2 separate regions of the Homo sapiens genome follow, and region 1 is linked to region 2. The links come from fine-mapping of genetic effects on gene expression. A gene starts in region 2. The other region holds a variant in brackets. All regions are shown on one strand. Distances are between the middles of the regions. Region 1 overlaps MPPED2 (metallophosphoesterase domain containing 2). Region 2 holds the start of MPPED2 (metallophosphoesterase domain containing 2).

Region 1 (2,909 bases), 120 kb after region 2:
GACGATTACTCATCTCCTTTTTGTCTCTATATGTTTGAGTATTCTGGACACATTTAAAAAAAATTCCTCCCATCTAACTATAATTTATATATTCTTCAATCAACTTTTAAGTGGTGCTTGCTGCTTATTATGGGGGCTTGTTTGCTTGACTGACCATACTGGGCCAGTAGGGTAGGGGACAAGTGAAGGGAGGTTTTCCAAAACCTCTTACATTAGAATCATGAGCTGACTCTCCAGCTGTCCACCTCATGATGGACCATCCTATGTGTACCTTAAAAATGAAAATGAATAATAAATTTTCATAAAAGAAAGTGCTGAAATCAAAGTGGATAAAGTGATTAACATGGACAGATAAAAAATTCAGTCACCAAGCACTTGTACAACCACTCACAAGTTGAAGTTGCAGCAAATAATTTAGATATTGCTGGTCGAATGACATGATTCTAGCTGGGCTGAAGCTACTCTCCATGGAGTTCTCTGGGTACCTTCCATGACACAGTGATAATGAGCCATAAGTGCTTTCCTTGAAGAATTCTTAAGAATCAGACCATGCTCCTTTAGGGAAATTTACTTGTTTTATATTATCAGATTAATAAGTGTAGAGAGGGAAACCATTTGCCTGCTAATCAATGGGGGATATGGAAGGAGTGATCATGATAATGATAATGATGGTGAAGATGATAATGATAATGATAATAACACATTGCATTTGAGGGCTTACTCCTGGGGGAGGCACTCTCTGAAGGGCTTTACACACCTCTCTATTTAGTTCTCTACCTGCTCCTTGAGTACCTTTAACTATAGAAAAGGAGGCTAGGTTCAAGAGATATTAACATTATAGTAATGTACTTAATAGGAGAATATACTTAATTGGAGAAGTAGGACTGAACTTGGCTCTTTCTGCTATGCTGCTGCTACATCTCCGATTCTGAGATTTTTCATCTATAAAAAGGAGTAACAGTAGGCATGCATCCTTATTAGGTTGTTTGCTGCTATGGGAACTAGGTGAGTTAATACATGTAAACTTTCTAGGACCATGTCTGTCATCTAGTAAGTGCTTAATGAATATTAGCCATTATTTTGTATTATTGTTGTCATTACTATTCAATACTACTTTTGATATTAAAAAAAGATAGTCCATATTTTAAGAAAAAAGTAGATGGTAAGAAAACAGAAATGCACACACATAAAGTCAGTGAAAACTACACTTCTTTTCCACTTCCATCAAAGACTATTAAATGTAGGGCCTGCTATTGTATATTTATTCAGACATCAATCTTAATCAGCTCCTTTGCTACTTTGGCGGTAAGGGCATTGTAATTCTATTTTTATCGGTTCCTTCCTGTGCACCAGACATTCAAAATAGCATGAGTAAGGATCAAAAATATCTTAATGGATTTGGTTCCCAGAGATATCAGTGACCAGGGGAAGAGTTTTGCAGAAATTTCTTCCTGAACTGATAAGGAAGGTAAGTGGGGAAGGTGTAGGGAGGGCTGGCTATGCAG[C/G]TTGCTGTTAAGTCTGCATGGTGTGAAAGGCAAAGATCCAGTGGTGGAGTGAATTACAAGGGTCCCTGGAAGAATCTGGGGGATCAGAGCATAAATGCCTCCTATTTTCAGGTTTATGATTGGGACCAGTGTTGTGTAATCATTGAAGATAATACTGACCCCTCATGAGGTAGCCATGGTTTTGGTGAACAGAGTTCCTGGTGTGATTGTGTTACACACACACACAGACACAATATGGAGGTTCCTATATGATTAATATTTTTATTTGTATATCTTGCCTGGGCATCTTTTCTTTCTTTTCTCTCTCCTTTCTTCTTTCTGCTTCTCTCCTAATTATTTTACCTCTTCTCCTCCTTTTACCCTCTTTTTCCCCTTGGCCTCTCTTTCACTCTCCCTTAATGCCATTTTATATTCAGACTAGTCATCATCAAAAAGTTATCAAAGTTTGTAAACTGAGATTGATGGGAAGAGAAAATGAGATTAGAATATCCAGAACAACTATAGTTCTTACAGCAATGCATACAGTGGTAGGCTATGCCACATGGTGAAGTGTGACACAATCTTAGGTGGTGCAGAGGTGCACATTTGTTCTTTAGTAATTATGTATTTATTGCATGCATATTGAAAGAGAGAGAGAGAGAGAGAGAGAGTGTGTGTGTGTGTGTGTGTGTGTGTGTATAGTATGCCATATTTGTGATTTCATGGATATTCTTGTTTAGGATGAGGATAAATTTATTTAAGTAATAAAAGTGATACCATATGTAGAGAAATACTTAGTAAATATTAGTACAGGTGGTACACAGATGTAGCTAATGAATCATGACTCTAGTACATGAGGACTGAAGCTTGGGATACACTGTTGTAATACATGGCATCTTTTACTTGCATCGGGGGGCCTCTGGGGAGAGCTGTAGGATGTGGTTGTTGGTCCATTCCAAGTGATCTCCAAGGAGCCTCCATGTTGTTTTGCCTTGGTTCTGCCATAGCATCAGTAAGCACATCTTGGAGCTAAGGATTCTGAATAAAACCAGCCCCCTCCTACCCCCAACAGTTCCACAGCTGCATCTCTTGATGAAAGCCCAAGGCGTGAGCAATAACTCTGCACCAGCAACTCGAGTTTTTAAACATTTAAACATGTGTAGCAGGTGTGAATGTTATTCTATGATATGCAGATGCAAGAAATTTCACATCAATATATTTGTTTGTTTGTTTTTAGAGTAGAAGTAAATCTAAATCTGAGTCTTGTCTCTTGGAGTGGGAAAGAATTAGATCGCACTTGTAATGGGGGTTCACTCGACCTTGGCTCCCAGCCCAGGGCCTGGGGGAGATCCAGGCCATTTGGTGGGAGCCCTCTGGACTGTGGTCCACACTGGCCACTGCTGATGGGTCCTCTGTTAGTATCCA
Region 2 (2,909 bases):
ACACTGTCCTTTCCACCCCAGCACATTTGACAAGCACTGACACTCTGGGCATGCTGTAAAATAAAATAAATACATTAGTAAGACCATTTCCCTTTTCATTTCAGCCTAGGCATAAGAGATGGGTTACTTAAAATTCAAGTGCCAGGAAAGCCCATTGTAAAAGGGAAATATTTTCAAGTGAATTCCGTTTGATCTTTTTTTATAGGGGCTCCTACAAGCCTCTCTCCCTTCCTCCCCAGACCCTGGAAACCAATTAGTCTCAGCACAGAGGCCACAGACCAGGTTGCAATGGCTCCTTTTTATTTTTAGGGGGTATAATTTCAGCCAGGATGTCTAGTCAGTTGTCACATAGTATACTTAGCACACTTCTCTCTCACACACATATATATACATTGGATTTCCCTTCAGAGAATGCACAGATCTTTCAGTCTGACTCCTAGAAAGGAATTAGATCTGGTTGCTGTCCCAATCTTTCAGCAATGACAATGGCATAACATCACAGGGCCACCTCATCTTTCACAGACAACCCTGCCAACCAAGTTTTCTAAAAGCCTTCTCTCCCTTGTTTTCTGTCTTCCAGCATTTCAGCGGCATTTCCTTTCCTTGTGTTGTTTGTACAAAATTCTGAAAACCTTTTCTTCCATTTTCCAAAGTAGCAGACAAAACTGGACTAAGTTTGATTTTTAAAATGCTTTTGACATGCTTATCTTTTGGGGAAAATTTTATCCAAAAGACGAAAATGGAAACAATTAGAGTCTTTGCCTCTCCTCACCTTCCTGTCCTGAATCTGCCTTAATTCATGGAGGTAAAAAAAATGATCAGCTGGGTTGGCCTTTTCTTTCTCAGCAACATTGCAGAGAGAAAGAGGTGAGTGTGTGAGTGAGTGAGTGAGCGTGTGTGTGTGTGTGTGTGTCTGTCGTGTTGAAAGGCTTGGGGAAAAAGGAGCACAGCTCTCCCCCAGGAAAGCCTCAGATCAGCAGATGGGAGGGAACCTAGGGTCGCCTTCCTAGGTCTGAGCGAAGTGTCCCAGCCGCTCCCCTTACCCCTGCGGTGAGCCCTGCGTCCTGGAACGGTGCCAGGACTCCTGACAGAGCCTGGCAGGTCGGTGGGTGGCGGGGAGCTGGGTGTTCTCTTTGCAGAAGAACACCATTTGGGAGAAAGCTCCCTTCTTTTCCTGGGGCACCGTAGCCCGCCTTCCTTCCCCTATCATTTTTTACGCAGATCGCACTCATGATGATGAACTTGCAGCTCAGCTTCCTGCCGCCTGCTTGACCCGGGAGCACCAGCAGGCTACCGGGCCTCGCCCTCGGCTCCCTCCTCCTCTCGAAACCCTGGGGCTTCGGGGCACCGGTGGGGGTCCGAGTGGGCAGGGACTGCGGGAGGGGCGTGCAGGGGCGCGGGGTCCCGCCGGGGAGCGCGCACGGAGCGGCGCCTCGGCCGCCCTGCTTCCTGGAGCTGTGCTCCTTTGACCCCAGTGGCAGTCCCTGTCACTGCACCGCTCGCTCTCCCTCCGGCTCGCCGCGCCCTCGCTCCCTCTCCTCGCCCCCTCGCTCGCTCTCTCCCCAGATCGAGGCTGCTCGGGTCCTTTCTCCCCCCGCCTCCCTCTAGCGCCGCGCCCCCTGGCCCCCAGCCCCAGCCTGCGGCGGGACCTCCGGGGTCGAAGGTTCTGGCCCGCTCGCGCCCCTCGCCGCCCCCGCGCGCCCCCAGCGCTCCTCCAGCCGGCTCGGGCCGCTCGGCTATGGATCGCCTGCTCGCCGGGCGCTGAAGGCATCCCCGGGATCCGGAGCGCAGCCCGGGAAAGGTAATCCGCCCCGGGAAGGGAGGCGGAGGGCGGGGGAGGGGGAGGAGGCGGCCGGGAGCCCGGTGCCGAGCACTAGAGGAAGGGAAAAAAATGCACACACAAAGCGGAGCCCGGGTGAGAGGTGCCTTGTCAGAGGCGCGTGCGAGGGGCTCGGAGGCTGCGGACCCGGGCTGCCCCGGTGCCCCTGACATCCGCACGAGCGGGCGCCTCCCGGGCAATTCGGCGCTCGGGGAGGGCTGATTTTCAACCCCTGAGCGAAAGCAAATTCTTTTTTAGGAGGTGTCTTCCCTCCGACTCCCCATCCTGCGCCTCTTCTCTTCTCCACCCCCTCCAGCCATCAGTCCCCCGACCTCTGGGGGTCCCCACCTCTTCGCTCCCTCCTCCGCCAGGATTTCTTAGGAGGAGAGGAGGGGGTATCGGCGAGAAGCTGGGGAAGCCGGGCGGCGGGGATGGGGGTGGGGACGAGGGCTCAGCGAGCTGTTTACTAGAAAGTCCCGGGGTGATGTGTTCGAGCCGCCCCGGCCTAGGCCTGGGTGCATTGTGTTGGCCCGATCCCCGGGCTCCCGCGGCGGCCCGAGGCCAGGTGCAGTGACGAGGGGAAGGCACCGCGCAGCTTTGTGCTCCGGCTGCGCCCCGCGGCCGCCCCCGGGGCCGCCCGCGCGCGCCGCTCTCGCTCGGGGCTCTTTCTCACCCCGTCCCCGCGCCCCAACCTCACTCTCCGCCGCTGCCTGGGTCTCCGCGCTCGCAGCCTGCGGAGCGACCCGGCGACCCAAGCTGGGGTCGAGGCTAGGCGACGGGGGACGAGTACCGAGGAAAAGTAACCGTTGCCGCCGGATTTCTTCTCTACAGAGGCAGGAGTTTCTTTGCTATTTACGTATAACAAGGTTATCTTTGTAAAGCCTTTGAATTCCGGGGTTTTGCGGCCTAGGAGGTGAAGGGGGCATTTTTCTAGAGGCTCAGGAGCCGGTTGGAATCCGTCAGCAAGAAAATAAATTAAGGATGCCCCAGTGAAGTTGATTTATAATAGTACATCACCACCCCCCTCTCACACACACACCCCAAATTAAGTGCAAATGCGGGTCATGAAAAATGTATAATTGATTTGAGA

The links. PIP is the estimated chance that this variant, and not a neighbour inherited with it, causes the effect. A credible set is the group of variants that fine-mapping cannot tell apart.
Region 1: its variant is the best candidate, but not a certain one, in a credible set for the expression of MPPED2 in lung (TOPMed, PIP 0.78).

The regions. Positions count from the first base shown.
Region 1 is chr11:30,467,503-30,470,411 of GRCh38, reverse strand. The region is part of intron 4 of MPPED2 (metallophosphoesterase domain containing 2); the gene reads left to right. Among named protein-coding and RNA genes, the nearest start is that of MPPED2-AS1, 120 kb to the left of the region's middle. The variant C/G (reference allele first, on the strand shown) is at 1,506.
Region 2 is chr11:30,584,934-30,587,842 of GRCh38, reverse strand. MPPED2 (metallophosphoesterase domain containing 2) reads left to right here and starts at 1,490. Exons shown (of 7, transcript NM_001584.3): 1 at 1,490-1,801. The region is part of intron 1 of MPPED2-AS1 (MPPED2 antisense RNA 1); the gene reads right to left. RefSeq lists a silencer at 1,536-1,585.